Regions from separate parts of the Homo sapiens genome. Here region 2 is linked to region 1. The links come from fine-mapping of genetic effects on gene expression. Tissue or cell type: whole blood. Region 1 holds a variant in brackets; the other region holds the start of a gene. All regions are shown on one strand. Distances are between the middles of the regions.

The links. PIP is the estimated chance that this variant, and not a neighbour inherited with it, causes the effect.
Region 2: TCFL5 starts here. The variant in region 1 is fine-mapped to the expression of TCFL5 in whole blood (INTERVAL, PIP above 0.99).

What each region holds. Positions count from the first base shown.
Region 1 is chr20:62,818,698-62,826,697 of GRCh38, forward strand. COL9A3 (collagen type IX alpha 3 chain) reads left to right here. Exons shown (of 32, transcript NM_001853.4): 4 at 525-596; 5 at 1,232-1,285; 6 at 2,484-2,519; 7 at 2,810-2,833; 8 at 3,060-3,113; 9 at 3,414-3,467; 10 at 3,894-3,935; 11 at 5,748-5,804; 12 at 6,271-6,324; 13 at 7,120-7,173; 14 at 7,507-7,560. Among named protein-coding and RNA genes, the nearest start is that of COL9A3, 5.6 kb to the left of the region's middle. RefSeq lists enhancers at 1-655, 4,537-5,225, 5,226-5,913 and a silencer at 6,502-6,561. The variant T/G (reference allele first, on the strand shown) is at 4,733.
Region 2 is chr20:62,857,313-62,867,240 of GRCh38, forward strand. It overlaps TCFL5 (transcription factor like 5), which reads right to left and starts at 4,510. Exons shown (of 6, transcript NM_006602.4): 1 at 3,712-4,510; 2 at 2,813-2,996; 3 at 2,052-2,214; 4 at 83-326. The coding sequence starts at 4,358. It overlaps LOC105372717 (a long non-coding RNA gene), which reads left to right and starts at 4,123. Exons shown (of 4, transcript XR_936989.4): 1 at 4,123-4,229. RefSeq lists silencers at 3,929-4,078, 4,579-4,768, 4,819-4,918 and an enhancer at 4,303-4,957.

The DNA.
Region 1 (8,000 bases):
CTGGAGCCAGCGGGGCGGGAGGGGAGTGTGTGGGCTCAGCCTCTGCATGTTCAGGGCAGGGCCTGGCTTTGAAGCTTTCTTTGGACCAGCGCCAGGCAGGCCGGGACCGGGGCTGGTACAGCCCTTCAGGTCCCCCAGGCCTGAGGTCACCTGGAGCCCTCCCACCTTCTTCAGTTCCAGGGGTTGAGGGTCCTGGGGCTCAGAGCCCTGTCTGGGCCCACTGGGGGTCCGACAGAGATGCCTGCTGGCCCTTAGCCAGGGAGGCCGAGGTGACCAGACGAAGGTCTTACAGATGCCACTGAGGGATGGGGCGGGCAGCCTTCCTGGGCCAGCAAGGTGTGGGCAAGCAGGACACACGTGCCCCAGCTGAGCCGGGTCTGCCAGACAGTAGGGGGGACCCAGGAGAGGGGCCCATCCCGTATGGTTGGGCTGGGGGGAAGTGGAAAGCATTTTGCTTCATTGCTGAAGGCCTGGGCTCCAGGCCAGACCCCGCCTTCACATCTCTGCCCTTTCCTCCTGCACAGGGACCAAAGGGGGCCCCAGGAAAGCCGGGGAAACCAGGAGAGGCTGGGCTGCCGGGACTGCCGGGTGTGGATGTGAGTGCGCCTGCCCCTCCCCGCCATGCCCCACTCCCCGCTCCGGGTCCCTGGAGGAGTCCGGCCCTAATTGCTGTTGTCCAGCTGGGCCTGCTCAGGCGGGAAGCCCAGTCCTGAGAGAAGTCTCCAGAAGTCCCCAACAGGGGTCCTTTGGCCTTCATCCCAGACGCCACCAGCATCTGGCAGGGGACAGAGCCAGCCCAGTGGAGTCGGAAGTCCCGCCAGCCCTCCTTGCTTGTCCAGGAATGAGTGCCCATTGTCAGGACCTTCTGCCCACTGCTGGCCTCACTTAGTCATCTTGGGCTCCAGGCCTGGCCCCAGGGCCACGGAGTTTTGTTCGGAGGAAGCCGGGCCTGAGAAGTGAGCTGTCCAGTCCTGCTGGGTTGGTCCCCGAGGCCTGACTACAGCAGGTGCCTCCGTTGCTGGCTTCCCGCTGGCTGCCCCCTCCCTCCTCCCAGAGCCTCTGGCTACAGCAGGCAGACAGTGGACAGGGCCAAGAGAGGAGGCTGCCACCCTAAGGGTCTTCTATGCCTCTCTGGACTCACCAAGGGAAGGGTCCGTGCTTCCATTTTTGCCTGGGGGGTGGCATGTGCTTCCCATGTGGCCCCTCGAGCTCGCCCTCTGCCTCTCCCCAGGGTCTGACTGGACGAGATGGACCCCCTGGACCCAAGGGTGCCCCTGGGGAACGGGTAAGTGCCTGCGCCGAACCCAGTGGCTTGGGTTCAGAGGTGAGGTCCCCTGGCCACCTCTGGCTGCTCTGTGTCCACAAGGCCAAGGAGCTGGTAGTTCCAAGGACAGCTGCCCTGCCCGTGCCTGGGGTGGAGGGGCAGAAGGGCAGGGTGCCAAGTGGCCAGTCCCCTGTGCCTGCCTCCCTGCCTCACCTCCACGTATGGTCAGAGTTGTCCTGGTATCCAGACCATGGCAGGGAGAAGGGGGATGGTTTGGGGGAACCCACCCCAGGTGCCTCCTCAGAATGTCCCTGAAGCCCCCAGGGCCCTGGGCAGACCACCACCAGGGACCCCCGGGCACGCAGCCTGCAGAGTCCCCTGTGCCTGCCTGTTGGACACTGAATCCTTTACCCTGACGGAGCGGCACCACCACCCAAGGGTGCCTTTCTCCCCTTGTGGCTTCTGAGTACAAACCCGAAGCCAGCATTCTCTCTTTGGCTTCATAAGACGTGGCTGTCAGCCAACCGGGTGCCACTGGCCCCAGGCGCAAAGCATCACAGAGGGCAGGAAGGCTGGGCTGGGGACACGAGGACACAGCCCTGCCCTTGGGACCCTTGGGAGCTCGTCAGGCATGAGGCGGATTCTGAGCTGAAAACAGGAGGGAAACAGTAGCTGCTGGCAGCCGAGTCCGTGGTGCCCAGGGGTGTGGGGTGGGCTGGTCCCCAGGCTTTCAGGAGGGGCCTCCAGCCTCAGCACAGGGCCCGTGCGTGCCGTCCAGGGAATGAGGCATTTCAGGCAGCAGGGGCCAGACAGGGCCCAGAGGGTGTGGAGGGCAGACAGGGCCTGGCTGCCCAAGGCTCTGGGGCTCGCTGACGTGGGCGGGGGCTGAGGACTCAGCAGGCTCCGTGGGTGGGTTATCGGGAGGGCTTCCTGGTGGAGACAGGCACCCCGGGTCACTTCGGTGCCTCTCAGCCCTGCCTCAGGTTGCACCTTCTTGCAGCGAGCGCTGGGACTCTGGTGCCATCTGTCTCCAGCAGCTCCCCAGGACGGCAAAGACCCTCCAGGTCAAGAGGGCTCAGAGGCCCTGCCCCTCTGTGAAGTGGGGACTTGGACCCTGTTGTCCTGGGAGTTGGAGTTGTGACGTCACACTTCAGAGGGAGGGGATTGGGTTTGCAAATAGAGGCCCAGCCCAACCTAGACGCCTGCTTTCCTCCCACAGGGAAGTCTGGGACCCCCGGGGCCGCCCGGGCTGGGGGTGAGTATGGAGTGTGGTCCTCTCCTCTCCATGGGAGTTTGGGGAGCTGGAGAGTCTGGTCTAAATGGGGTGGCCTCCAGGAATCCCAGGGACCATCCCTGGCCCTCTCATCTGCAGCCTCTCCGGAGGCTGGTGCCTGGATGGGGTCCTGGTGCCCTCTCTGGGCTGGGACCAGACACCCATCCCTGGAACCGCCCTTTCCCCAGGACCCACCTGAGCCATCTTAGGGAGGGGTGAGGCGCAGCCCTTCTTGTGCCTGGCAGGCTCTGACCCCATGTTTGGCTTTGCAGGGCAAAGGCCTCCCTGGACCCCCCGTGAGTACTGACAACCCTTGGGGCCCTGAGCAAGCACGCAAGTCCCGAGAGCCTGCCAGGCTGGGATGTCCCAAACCGTGCCTGGGGGTGGGGCTTCTCAGGGGCAGCCATCTGACCACCCCATACTTGGAGCCCCTCTCCCTTCGGAGGCGGCACACCAACCCTGGGTGGGGATCCTCGGGGCTTCCGGGTGCAGACCTCCCCACCTCTCTTTACTTCCCTCCAGGGAGAGGCAGGAGTGAGCGGCCCCCCAGGTGGGATCGGCCTCCGCGGCCCCCCGGTGAGTGGCTGTCCCAGAGCCCCTCAGAGTGTGCTCACCTGTGGCCTCCACCCCCAGACTCAACAGCCAGGGGCTCCCTTCCCCTCTCCCTTTTCCCTTTCTCCCCCAACCCCACCTTGGTGGGTGTTGGTAGAAGCCCTGGCCAATGATCCAGACCCGACCTCAGGACGCAGACACCAGCACAGTCCGTGGGAGTGGGGGCTGGTGGGAGCTGGGCGTGTCCACCTCCCTGGGAGAAGCCGGGCACCTCACTCAGGTGGGGGCTGGTCCCACTCTGTCTAAGTCATACCCCCTCCCCAGGGACCTTCTGGACTCCCCGGCCTCCCTGGTCCCCCAGGACCTCCCGGACCCCCTGTAAGTACTGGGCAGAGGCTCTAAGAAGTGCTGGGCATGGACTAGGACACTGGGTTGGACCCTCCCCATTCCCCCTCCCCAGGCTCCATGCCCCTCCGAGATCTCCTAACCCTAACTTGGCCACTCCCAGGAACAGTCAATGGTGGGGGCAGTGGCTGTGGCTAGGCCAGCCAACTTGGGGATGGTCAGGACTCAGGTCCCCATGGCCATCCTGCCCCAAGGACAGGTGGATTCTGTCGTTGTCACATGCCCTGTGGGTGGGCCAGCAGCTCCCAGCACTGGCCACTTGGGGGACAGGATGAAGGGTCTCCAAGTCCCCTGGTGGATGGGGAAGGTTGTGGTCCGTCAGAGAGTGGGTGGGTGGGTTGGGTGGCTGCAGGTGGCTGGGGAGGGCGGGAGAATGTCAGCTGTCTCTTTTTGTCTTAGGGACACCCAGGAGTCCTCCCTGAAGGCGCTACTGACCTTCAGGTAGGCACTTGAAGCCATTTGTTAAGGGTGCTGGGGGGTGCCTACCTTGGGGGGAGGGGTTCTGGCCTGGAGAGGGGCTTGTCCATACTGGCAAGAAGGCAGGGCCCGAGCCCTCCCTGGGGACAGGAGCTCAGAGCAGACAGCTCGGGCACAACCTGGCAGAGAGGCTGGCTGGGACCTCCCCCTCCCCCTTCCCACCCTCCTCACCACCGTCTAGACCTGCACTGTCCCTCATGAAGCCACCAGGCGCATGGAGCTGTACAAATGTAATGAATCACAATCATGTCACAGAGCCATCCAGCTCCCCTGCGTCATCCGCAGAGGGCGCCCTTGGCCACAGATGGCGACAGAACTGGAGTCTGGGACCCACCTTTATCTTGATCTTTGAGCCTTGTCATTTGCCTGAAAAGAAAACAGGCTCAGGTCAGGCGCAGTGGCTCAGGCCTGTAATCCCAGCACTTTGGGAGGCCCAGACAGGAGGATCGCTTAAGCTCAGGAGTTTGAGACCAGCCTGGGCAACATAGTGAGATCTTTGTCTCTACAAAAAATTGTTAAAGTAGCCAGACGTGGTGGCGTGCCTGTTGTCCTAGCTACTTGGATGGCTGTGGTGGGAGGATCACTTGAGCCCAGGAGGCAGTGGTTGCAGGGTGCTGTGATCAAGCCACTGCACTCCAGCGTGAGCAGCCAAGCTCAAGCCTGTCTCAAAAAAATGAAGAGGAAAGAAAATGGGCTTCGGAGGCCACGGATCCATCTCTCCTCTCTGTTTGGCCGTCCGTGGTGGCAGTCAGCGCCTTGTT[T/G]CCATAGAGAGGTTTGATAGTTTTGAAGGGAAAAGCTCGGCCCACTCTGACCTGACCACCGACGCTGTCTACCAGCCTCTCTCCTCACCCCACCCCGGGGCCTAGGTGCCTGGCCAGCCTGTGTCCCAGAAGGGAGGCTTTAGGGAACCTTCCAGAATGTGGTGCGTGGTTGGGCCCCCGATCGTGGGCTGAGTGGGGCAGGGGCTGAAGATACGGGTCTGCACCCTTGGCCTGGCCTGCCCATTGCAGCTGTAGGATCATCTAGAAGCAGCCCTGGGTTTCCTGAGCATCAGACCTGTTGCCTGGGCTCACAGTGCCCCTCCTAAAAGCCCCATGCCGAGCACATTCCTGTGCTGAGGATGGGCCCGACCTGAGGCTGCTGCAAGGCCCCCTGCAGTGCCGGCCGGGACTGTGCTGAATGGCTGCTTTGATAGCCAGTGTCTGCCGTGGGGCCGGCTGCTCCATGCAGCCCCTGCTGCACTTGGCCAGTGCTGAAGGAGACCCTGTCTGTGTCCTGTCCCAGTGCCATCACCTGTACGGAGTGGCCTCCTGGGGTCCCGTCACTGTGTGGAGTGGCCTCCTGGGGTCCCGTCACTGTGTGGAGTGGCCTCCTGGGGTCCTGTCACCCAGAGTGTCCCGACACCCGCGCGGAGTGGCCTCCTGGGGCCCCGTCACCCACGCGGAGTGGCCTCCTGGGGTCCCGTCTCTGTGTGGAGTGGCCTCCTGGGGTCCTGTCACCCAGAGTGTCCCGACACCCGCGCGGAGTGGCCTCCCGGGGCCCCGTCACCCACGTGGAGTGGCCTCCTGGGGTCCCATCATCTGTGCGGAGTGGCCTCCTGGGGTCCCGTCACTGATGCGGAGTGGCCTCCTGGGGTCCTGTCACCATGAGGAGTGGCCTCCCGGGGTCCCGTCACCGTGCAGAGTGGCCTCCTGGGGTCCCGCGGGCGCTGACCCCTGCGTCGGACGTCCTGCTCTGTTTGGCTGGGAGGGGTCTGACTGCTCTGTTTTCCGACAGTGCCCAAGTATCTGCCCGCCAGGTCCCCCAGGGCCCCCTGGAATGCCAGGGTTCAAGGTGAGTCACGGGTGACTGGGACCCAAGCACCACCCTGTGCTGGGCAGGAGGCAGCTGGGCTCCCATGGGGCTGTGGAGGTGGCGGGTCCAGAAAGCTGGACCCTGGTTCCAGGGTTGCCCCAGGAAGAAAGCTAGGCCAGCCTCCTTGTCCCGCCTTCAGCACCCCAGTGACACGCTGATGTGGCCAGGCTGGGACTGGCCATAGGCGTCAGAGACTGCGGGGGAGAGCTAGCCTCAAGCTCCCACCCCAGCCCAGCCCTGGCCCGCTCCTGACCGCAGAGCGCCCTCATGTGGGTCCTAGCGCCTCTCAGGCCTCAGTTTCCCCATGAGGGCCCAGACCCGCGGTCCTGTGCGCTGCCGTGTGGCGGGCCCTGGGCTGACTGACCCTGCAGGCCTCACTTCAGTGTTGCCAGGGAGGGGGTGTCGGGGGGTCTGGGTGGGGCAGTGACCCCACATTTGCTTGCAGGGACCCACTGGCTACAAAGGCGAGCAGGGGGAAGTCGGCAAGGACGGCGAGAAGGTGAAGCTGCCGCACAGCAGCTGGGGAGGAGCTGGGGACTGGAGGCTGGGCTCCGGCGGGAGGGAGGGGCTGGGCTCCGGCGGGAGGGAGGGGCTGGGCTCCGGCGGGAGGGAGGGGCTGGGCTCCGGCGGGAGGGAGGGGCTGGGCTCCGGCGGGAGGGAGGGGCTGGGCTCCGGCGGTGGGGAGGGACCGTTTCATGGGTGCACCTGCACTGGCACCTTCTGTGCCTGTCTTCCAGACAGGGCCTGGCTGGTCAGAGCTGGGTGATTTAGGCAGGGTCCCTGGACAGACCCCGTCCTGCCTGGCCTCGCTGTGGAAGCTCCCTGGTTTGTGTCTGTGGCCGGGGCGAGGGGCATCTGTGAGGATGGCTGGCTTTAGCCTGTAGCCTCCCCTCACCTGTGGTCGCTGTCCGTGGAGGGTGTCTGTCCATGGTCACCTGCAGGCCGGGGGACCAGGTCTGGGATGCCCTTTAGCGTGGCTGGAGTGATCAGATGAGGAGACCCCAGGTGCACATCAGAGGGGTCCCTGCTTGGCCACGAGGAGGGGCCTGGACAGGGCTGAAGGGCCTTGTGGGAACAGTGACCACGGACCCCGGCCCGGCAGGGCGAGGCCACCGAGACTCGCGGGACTGCTCTGGAACTGTGGGCAAGTGTCCCCTTCACAGAGCCTCCAAGGCCCAGCTGTGAAGGGGGCAACACCCCCAGCTGCTTGGGCTTGAGTAGGGTGACTGGAGGCACCGAAAGGTGCAAGGAGAGCCAGACTGGGCCGCTGACCACCCTATCCCCTCTGTTTCAGGGTGACCCTGGCCCCCCTGGGCCCGCCGGCCTCCCGGGCAGCGTGGGGCTGCAGGTGAGGCTAGGAAGGGGTAAGGATGGTGGGATGGGAACTCAGCCCACAGAGTGATCAAGCCCTGCACATATCTACCCCCGAGGGGGCCAGCTCCGGCTGGGGGGTGTTTGGCCAACACCCAGGCACAGGAGCGCGACCTGGCTGGGGGTCCCACCTCTGCCAAGGCTGCTGACCTCAAGGCTGGTGCCCCCTCCCTCTGGGGGACCTGAGCTGAGGCTGAGGGCTCATGGAAGACACCAGGGCTCCCAGGGGTACCCCGAGGGCCTTGGCCCTGGGTGCTCCCCGGGGTGGAGGTGCAGCCCCAGCCTCTGCATCTGTGCCTCTCTCTCGCAGGGCCCCCGGGGATTACGAGGACTGCCAGGGCCACTCGGGCCCCCTGGGGACCGGGTAAGTCCTGCAGCCCCTAGTGGGGGCCGGCCAGGTGGCTGGGGGCCTGGTTGTCTGCACCTCCAGACTTCAGATGGGCCCCGTGAGTGACACTCTGAAGCAGCCGGCACCCTGGCTCTGGCCATCGCCACTGTGGCGCAGGCCTTGCTCTGGGCCCCTGTTCTCGCATGTGCCTGGGCGAGAGCTGACAGTCGGCGCTCACTGATGCCCGCACGCGGTCCCAGGCTGCTGTGAGGGCTATTCACGCGTGTGCCCGGGCGAGGGCTGATGAACTCTGCTCGCTGACACCCACACACACGGTCCCAGGCTGCTGTGAGGGCTGTTGTGGCTTAGGCCAGAGCAGGAGGGGAAGCAGGGATTTGGAGACTACTAGGTGGCATCTTGGGGGAACTTGCTGGGGAGCCCTAGAGGAAGGGCTGCTTGTGTCTGGGCCGCCCCTG
Region 2 (9,928 bases), 40 kb after region 1:
TAAGGATCACTCATCTGTGATAACCATGTATGACTAAGGTAATCATATATGAGTCAGCCTGACAAGCAGTCACACGTATTACCTTCTATCTCTTTCCATTCGGTTATGCCTCTCCCTACGTTGAGACCTTCCTCCCTGGGGCCCACTCTGGGCCTGCTCCCCCAGGTTTGCCTGTGAGGACTCCGAGGACTGCCAAGCGCCTTGTGTGGCGGTGGCACCTTCGCCCACATTCTGAATCTCTCCAAGGGCTCTTCGCTCTACATTTGTGTCCAACTGACGCATTCTACTCCGATTCCTCTTCAGTGCTTGTTTGCATAGCGCTGCTTCTTTGCGAAAGAAGAAAAAAGTGGTTTTTAATTTTGTATTCTTATCTCAATTAATGCTGAATACAGTTTTGGCCTTTTCAATCCAAGATATAAACATTATTGGGTAAGCAGCACAGAGAACCGAAACACAAAGAGATGTACTAATGCAGTTTTTCAGCATCAGCAGGGACCATGAAGCCCAAGCCTATTTTATACAACGAAACTGAACAAGAATCAATCATCACACTAAATACGTTTTCCAAGTGCTATGCAACCAATATGACCTCATCCAAAGCCCCTCTTTTTAATTAACAGGTGTTATCTATGAATACAGAAAACAAGAAGTTGTTTACTTTTTCTAAAGGTCAGAATGGAAAAAAAAAAACAACAACAACAAACCACCTGGACATATTTCCTCCCAAAAATATTTTCTTTATATACAATTATTCTAAGAACAAGAAAAAAAAACAATTATTCTAATATGACAGTATTTTTACTGCAATGCTCAGAACAAAACTGCAGCAGCGTGTGTGTGTGCCCTCGCCGCAGAAGTGGCTCTCCTCCCCAAAGCAGGAAGAAGTAGCGTCCGAGCTTTTCTGCTGCGTGACAGGCTATGCCACGTGTGCGTCAGTGGAACTGTATCCATCAAAGGACCACAGGCACGTGACTGGCAGGCGTGCTCATGTGCACGCGTATGCCACACAAAGCACCCATTTCAGAAGGATGATGAAGCTTTCAGCAGGAGAGAGAGGAATTCGGTCGTTTTGGTGATATTTTATTCCTTAACCTGAGTAGTCGGCACAGAGGCTGCTTTAATACTCATCTTTGTATCTTACAAATGTGAACATATACTTTGGCATAAAATTTTATAGGGAGGAAAAGGAAGGACTGACATGGGAGAAGGCGGTAGCTCTTCCTCCCCATCTTGTCTTCACCAACTCTTGGAAAGCTAAGTGTAAGGAGTGTTCTTTTTTCGGGTCACTTCACAAATCAGTTTCCCAGGGAGGAAGGGGCTACGCAGGTGTTTCCCAGGGAGGAAGGGGCTATGCAGGTGTTTCCCAGGGAGGAAGGGGCTACGCAGGTGTTTCCCAGGGAGGAAGGGGCTACGCAGGTGTTTCCCAGGGAGGAAGGGGCTACGCAGGTGTTTCCCAGGGAGGAAGGGGCTACGCAGGTGTTTCCCAGGGAGGAAGGGGCTACGCAGGTGTTTCCCAGGGAGGAAGGGGCTACGCAGGTGTTTCCCAGGGAGGAAGGGACTATGCAGGTTAGCGCAGCAGTGCCTTCAGCAGTGACTTTATTTCCAAACTTTCCGAATCACCTTACAGCCTCTCCCTGGCAGCCCTAATAGGGTCCTCCTATTAGCAGCCACCTATCCAAAGGCTTTCGGCAGATGTTAGATGACTGCCTCACTCATCGAGTATAACATAAGGAAAATAAAAAACTATAAAGTACTTTCAGTAACTTGAAAATAACTGAAAATTTATGTAAGTCTATCACTTTACTGTTAAGAAAAAGCCCTCAAACGCAACGTTCTCACACCAAGATTAATTATGTTTGAGAATCAGAATAATGTTTAAAGCGAAAAGACAGGGAAGCGGGTGGACAGACCCCTGAGATACACAGACACCTCCAAGACTGTTTCACATGTGTACAAACCATCTGTCTCCCCTGCCCCCCAAGGCCAAAATGCCATCAGCCACAGGGCTCAGTCAGAAGAAAGCTCCCACTACCTGCTGCTTCATCGCTTACCTCCCACTTTAATCCAAACTTGCTCAGGCAAAACTTTGTTTCTACTACCTAACGTCTGTTTAGTGGATTCAATTTCTTGCTGATAACAGAAAGAAAATGCTCTAGGCAATCCAATATCCTGGTGCTTGGCAGCTTCAAGTACAGAACATGAGTTACTAGAACTCTGGAAAAAAATGAAGCAACAGGAATTTTATCAATATGTGGCTTACTCTCCTCTTTACTGCACAAATGAAATGCACTTAACAAACATCAAAACTACTAACACGTAATTTGAAGAACTTTAGTTGCACTGAAGATTTAAAAATATTCGCATACCACATAAACACTCAACTTTCACAGGTATTTTTTTGTTTTTGTTTTTTTGTTTTTTTTTTTGAGACAGGCTCTCACTCTGTCGCCCAGACTGGAGTGCAGGGTCGCGATGTCAGCCCACCACAACCTCCACCTCCCAGGCTCAAGCGATTCTCCCGCCTCAGCCTCCTGAGCAGCTGGGATTACAGGTGTCCGCCACTACCACCTGGTTAATTTTCGTACGGGGTTTCACCATGTTGGCCAGGCTAGTCTTGAACTCCTGAACTCAAATGACCCACCCACCTCGGCCTCCCAAAGTGCTGGGATTACAGGTGTCGGCCTTGGCGCCCGGCTTAAAAGGTTATTAAGCTCACTGAAGGGAAAAAAAAGTACTTGGGACCTAACCAAAATAAGTTAAAATTTACCCATTTAATACAAAAGAGCAAAGCTTCACAAATCATGTTCCCTACCTGTGTCTGTGAAAGATTAGAATTTCCACTAGTAGAGCAAGCATTTGTAGTAAACAGTGGGTATGTAAATTGCAAAGCAGTAGTTGTAGCCGCAGTTTTATTTTTCACTAATGCTGTACATTTGTTTTGTTGCTGAAGAGGAACATTCATTAGTTCAGATGGATGTCGAATGAGAGTTACCAAACTGCCAAGACAAAAGAAAGCCCAGAAGTGTCAGCAATACGTGGCAGACAAGCATCCACCATCCCACTCCCATGGCTCTGGCTAGTTTTTCCAGACAGCAACCCAACTCTCATCCTGGAAATCTCTACACAACAATTAGCAACTATCGCTGCTGTGGAAGTCCTCCTCTTCCTATGGAGGAAAAGCAAAACTGCGCCACCTCCCTGCTCTCATCACATCCTGACACCAATCTCACTTTTGCCATCCTCCAGTGTGACCACGATGGGCAACTACAGGCTGGGATGAGCAGAAAACTGCGGACGCAGCCCCTTCCACAGCCATCCCTGAGGGTCGCCAAGGGGGCGGCTGCAGGCTGGAGCCTCATTTTAGAGCTCAAAGCCTGCAAACCCCCGTCGGGCCTTCCTAGGCTTCCCTGACATCCAAGAGTGCCACCCGGAGCACATGGTTCCCAGGAATTCTGCGCGCTCGGCCCCACTCCAGGCGGGGCCACTGAGGGAGGGGGTGTTTAGTTTCTGGAAGTACCTGCTCCCCGGGGCCCGCACAGCGCACACAGCCTTTCGGGGCGGCCCCAGACCCGGTGAGGTCCGCGCCCTGTGCCGCCGGGAGGGCAGGCTGGGGGCGTGCACAGCGAGGGCCCCCTTTGCCTCCGCCCCGGCCCCGGCCCCGGCCTCGGCCTCCACCCGGGCCCCGCCAGCCCCCGGCCGCCGGGCACGCACTTGTTGAGCGCCCCGCCCGGCTCGGGGGGCTCGGGGCCGCGCGGCGCGGGCGGCGGCTCGGCGGGGATGCTGTTGAAGCGGTCCTCCAGGCGGACGCGCACGGCCGGCTTGGCCCGGGCCTCGGGCGCGCCGTCGGGTCCAGCCGCAGCCGCAGCCGCGCCCGCGCCCTCCTTGGCGGCGCCGTCGGCCCGGGCCCTCGCTCCGTCCCCGCCGCCCGACGTCTTCTCCGCCGCGCCCGCCTCGCTTAGCAGCATCATGCGCAGCTCCTGGAAGTCGATGTGGCCCAGGCAGGGCGCGTCGGCCGCCAGCGCGGACGGGCACAGCACGGGGTACACGGGCGCCGCGCCCCCCTGACCGCCCGCCGCGAAGCCGCCCGCGCCTGCGCCCGGGCCCGCCGCCGCCAGCAGCGCCGAGTTGAGGCGCGTCTCGAGCTCGCCGTCAGCCGCCGCCTCCATGTGCGAGCAGAGGATGTGCTGCAGCTGCGTGTACTCCACCTCCGTCATCTCCACCAGGCTCAGGTCGGTGGTCGTGAAGCTCAGCCCCGGCTCGCCCAGCGCCGCGTCCCCGCCGCCCGCGCCCTCGACGGCCGCCTCGCCGCCTGCCGCGCCTGCCTCCGGCGGCGGCTCCCGCGGTCCGGGGCCCGACATGGCGGCGCGGCGCGGCCCAACGGCGGCGAGGGCGACGCGGGCGGCGGGCGGCGGGAGGCGGGAGGCGGGAGGCGGGAGGCGACCCCCGGCCCGAGCACTACTCTGCGCCGGCCACAGCCGGCGCGCCGTTGGGGGAGGGAAAACCGCTGAGTGCCGCGCACAGCGCCTGCGCCGCCCCGCCCCGCAACGGCAACCCCACCCCTGCGCCAGCCCCGCCCCCTCCGTTACCCGCCGCCGCCGGCCCCGCCCCCGCCCAACCGCCCGCACGCCCGGCCCCGCCCCACGTCGGCGGATGCTTGCGCGGAGGGCCCGCCCCCACGGCCCAGCCACGCCCCCACAGCTAGGCCACGCCCCCAGCTCAGGCCACGCCCGGTTCCCAGCCACGCCCCTGCTGCCCGGCCACTCCCCGCTGAGGCCCGGCGAGGGCGGCTGCGCTGGAATCAGCGTGATACCTACGCGGTGACACCCTGGGGAGAAGCCACGTCCGTGCGTGCACGTGCGCCCCATTACAGCGGCAGGAATGAAGACGTTGTCAAAACAGCTCCCTGGACCCACAGTCCACAGTGCCCAGGCCATCCGCTTCATCCGCGTAAAATGCGCAGCGCATGGCCGGGTTCTGTGGCTCATGCCTGTAATCCCAGTACTTTGGGAGGCCGAGGCAGGTGGATCAGGAGGTCAGGAGATCGAGACCAGCCTGGCCAACATGGTGAAACCCCGTCTCTACTAAAAATACAAAAATTAGCTGGACGTGGTAGTGCGTGCCTGTAATCCCAGCTACTCGGGAGGCTGAGGCAGGAGAATCGCTTGAACCCGGGAGGCGGAGGTTGCAGTGAGTCGAGATCTTGCCACTGCACTCCAGCCTGGGCAACAGAGCCAGACTTCATCTCAAAAAAAAAAAAAAAATGCACAGCGCGACGGTGGTGGTACATTCCCAGCGCTGGGCCCGCCTCCACCGCTGCATTCACCACCGGTCTCCTGTAGCAGTCAGCACACTGCCCCTCCCCCGCCTGCAGCCACTAATCTTCTGTGTCCAGGAGTTTGCCTAGGCTGGGCCTTCCCTGTTAAGGGAACTATGCAATATGTGGTCTTTAAGAGACTTATTTTTGCAATCTTGAAATAATTCCTGTACTTAACCTCTCACCCACATTCCCATCTCACTCAGTGGTTGTCTGTTCTCTGTCTAGGCATTAGGACACTTAAAGGCCTGTGACTTGCACATCGTCTTCTAAGCCGGGTCTGAATCTTTCGCTCATTTCATCACAGTTTAGACACAGACCAATATATTACAATGATTCAACGATGGGCTATGAAAGCTCAGCCATGCAAATCTAAACTCACACATGTATACATGAAAATAATATATCAGTTTTGGGCAAAACATCAGGTTTCAGAAAACACTACCAAGGAGGAAAGCAAGGACTTAAAACTCTCAAGGACATGGCAACAGAAGTCGTCTAACGTAAAACAGAGAGGGAAGGCTAAGAGAGTGAGCAGAGCATCAGTGAGCTGTGGGGCCGCTTCAAGCAGTGTGATTTGAAGTCCCCTGGGGGTGGAAGGATGGGGAGAAAGACATTTTAAGAAGTAATGATTGCCAGGTGAGGTGGCTCACGCCTGTAATCCCAGCACTTTGGGAGGCCGAGGCGGGCAGATCCCTTGAGGTCAGGAGTTCGAGATCAGCTTGGCCAACATGATGAAATCTCGTGTCTACTAAAAATATAAAAAATTAGCCAGGTGTGGTGGCATGTGCCTGTAATCCCAGCTACTCAGGAAGCTGAGGCAGAAGAATCGCTGGAACCCGGGAGGTGGAGGTTTCAGTGAGTAGAGATTGCACCACTGCACTCCAGCCTGGGAGACAGAGCAAGACGCTGTCTCAAAAAACAAAAACAAAACAACAAAAAAAAATAATGATTGAAAAGTTTTTTTAAAACTACAAACCTACAGACCCAAGAAGTTTAACATACCTCAAACTCAAGAAACATGAAGGAAACTACACCAAGATGGAAAGCAAATTGCTTTATTTATTTATTTTTTTATTTTTTGAGATGGAGTCTTGCTCTGTCTCCCAGGCTGGAGTGCAATGGCACGATCTTGACTCAGCACAACCTCTGCCTCCTGGATTCAAGTGATTCTCCTGCCTCAGCCTCCTGAATAGCTGGGATTATAGGCATGTGCCACCATGCCTGGCCAATTTTTTGTATTTTTAGTAGAGACGGGATTTTGCCATGTTGGTCAGGCTGGTCTTGAACTCCTGACTTCAGGTGATCTGCCCACCTTGGTCTCCCGAATGCTGGGATTACAGGCATAAGCCACCGTGCCTGGCCTCAAATTGCTTTAAATCAGTGAAAAATCTTAAAAGCAGCTGTACACACACACACACACACACACAAGACATTGTGTACAGAGGAACAAAGATAAGAATGATTACAGGCCAGGCGCGGTGGCTCACGCCTGTAATCCCAGCACTTTGGGAGGCTGAGGCGGGCGGATCACAAGGTCAGGAGATCGAGTCCATCCTGGTAAACATGGTGAAATCCCATCTCTACTAAAAATAAAAAAAAATAGCTGGGTGTGGTGGCACAGGCCTGTAATCCCAGGTAACTCAGGAGGCTGAGGCACGAGAACCGCTTGAACCTGGGAGGTGGAGGTTGCAGTGAGCCAAGATCACGCCACTGCCCTCCAGCCTAGTGACAGAGCGAGAGACTCCTTCTAAAAAAATAAATGAAAAGATTGCAGTGATTGCAGACATTTCTTCAGGAATAATGCAAGTCAGAACAGAGTGGAATCACACCTTTGAAGTGCTGAGGGCAAGGGAGAAGCTGACTGATAGTGTCAGGCGTCTGTATTCACAGGCTCTGCGTCTGTGGATTCAACCAAGGATCAAAAATACTCAGAAAAAAATTACTTGCACCGAAATGCACAGACTGCTCTTCCTTGTCATTATTCCTTAAACAATATGGTATAACAAGTATTCATTTAGCATGTACATCGCATGAGGTATTATAAGTAATCTCGATATGTATATATTTTAGAAACAGGGTCTCGCTCTGTCTCCCAGGCTGGAGTAGGATAATACGGTTATAGCTCACTGCAGCCTCGACCTCCTGAGCTCAACCAATCCTCCTGCATGACTCTGCCGAGTAGCTGGGACCACAGGCACACACCACCATGCCCTGCTAATTTTTATTTTATTTTATTTTTTGTAGAGATGGTATCTTACTATGTTGCCCAGGCTGGTCTTGAACTCCTGGCCTCAAGTGATCCTCCCACCTCAGCCTACCAAATTACAGAGATTACAGGTGTGAGTCATCACGCTCGCCGCTACAGATGATTTAAAGTGTATGGAAGAATGTGCATAGGTTATATGGAAACACTATGACATTTTGCATAAGGGACTTGAACATTCGTGGATTTTGGTACCCATGGCAGGTACTGGAACCAATCCCCCAGGGATACTGAGGAATAACTGTAGTTCTATGCCCAGCAAAGATATTTTTCAAAAACAAAGGCAAAATAAAGACTTTTTTGCACTTACAAAAGCTAAAATAATCCATCACTAGCAGACTTGCAGTACAAGACATGTTCCAGAAGTCCTTCAGACAAAAGGAAGGTGAGACTGGATAGAAGTCGGGGTCTCCACAGAAGAATGAAGAGACTGGACGGGTTAAAGCTATTTATTACGAGCCTTACCACAACCACTGCAATACAGCAACAAAGGGTGATGGCTAATAAATCAATAAAGGAGAGAAAATGGAATCAGACTCTCAAAGGGGCAGAAAGTGAGATATGATTGTGCCACTGCACACCAGCCTGAATGACAGACCTCACCTCTAAAGTAAATAAATAAATGATACAAAAATTAAAAATGCAAGAGGCAGAAAAAAGAAAAATAGAACAAAGAGCACACGGGACAAATAGAGAATAAATAGCAAGATAGTAGATTTAAATCCAATAAAAAAAAATCACATGAGATGTAAAAGGTTTAAACACGTCAATGAGAAAGCAGAGACCAGAATGGATAAAAAGTCAGAACTTGGAGGCCGGGCGCGGTGGCTCACGCCTGTAATCCCAGCACTCTGGGAGGCCGAGGCGGGCGGATCACAAGGTCAGGAGATCAAGACCATCCTGGCTAACACGGTGAAACCCCGTCTCTACTGAAAAATACAAAAAATTAGCCAGGCGTGGGGGCGGGCACCTGTAGTCCCAGGTACTCGGGAGGCTGAGGCAGGAGAATGGCGCGAACCTGGGAGGCGGACCTTGCAGTGAGCTGAGGTCCCAGCTCTGCACTCCAGCCTGGGCGACAGAGTGAGACTCTGTAAGTCAGACCTTGGAGTGCCCGTAAGAAACTCATTTTAAAGAGAAAGGATGGAAAGTGCGCACCTCCCTAGCGCTGTCGAAAGGCAGCTGGAATAGGCATATAAACACTAAAGTCAATTTCCAGGAGGCGGGTCTGAAGAAAAAGAAGAAAACAAATACTAAAGTAGATTTCAGAGCCAAGAATTTTGCCAGCGATTCTGGTCATTTCATAGTGAAATAGGGGGCAGAACATTTTCCTGATTAAATGCATCTAATTAGAAAGCTTAAAAATACATGGAGCAGGGCCGGGTGCAGTGGCTCACACCTGTGATCCCAGCACTTTGGGAGGCCGAGGCGAGCGGATCACTTGATGTCAGGAGTTCGAGACCAGCCTGGCTAACATGGCAAAACCCCATCTTTACTAAAAATACAAAAATTGGCTGGGCATGGTGGTGTGCGCCTGTAATCCCAGCTACTTGGCAGGCTGAGGCAGGAGAATCACTTGAACTTGGGAGGCAGAGGTTGCAGTGAACTGATATTGTGCCACTGAACTCCAGCCTGGGCAACAGAGCGAAACCCTGTCTCAAAAAAATAATAAATAAAAAATAACAAAACAAAACAAAACAAACCATGGAGCAGGCCGGGCGCAGTGGCTCACACCTATAATCCCAGCACTTTGGGAGGCCAAGGCGGGCAGATCACAAGGTCAGGAGTTGGAGACCAGTCTGGCCAACATAGTGAAACCCCATCTCTACTAAAAATACAAAAAAATTAGCCGGGCGTGGTGGCGTGAACCTGTAATCCAGCGACTCGGGAGGCTGAAGCAGGGGAATTGCTTGAACCAGAGAAATGGAGGTTGCAGTGAGCTGAGATTGTGCCACTGCACTCCAGCCTGGGCGACAGAGGAAGACTCCATCTCACAAAAAAAAAAAAAATTCTGGGCACGGTGGCTCACGCCTGTAATCCCAGCACTTTGGGAGGCTGAGGCAGGTGGATCACCTGAGGTCAGGAGTCCGAGATCAGCCTGACCAACACGGAGAAACCCCGTCTCTACCTAAAAAAAAAAAAAAAAAAAAAAAAAATTAGCTGGGCATGGTGGCGCATGCCTGTAATCCTAGCTACTCGGGAGCCTGAGGCAAGAGAATCTCTTGAACCCGGGAGGCAGAGGTTACAGTGAGCAGAGATTGTGCCATTGCACTCCAGCCTGGGTGACAGAGTGAGACTCCGTCTCAAAAGAAAGAGAGAGAGGAGAAAGACAGAAAATCAGAAAGGATGCA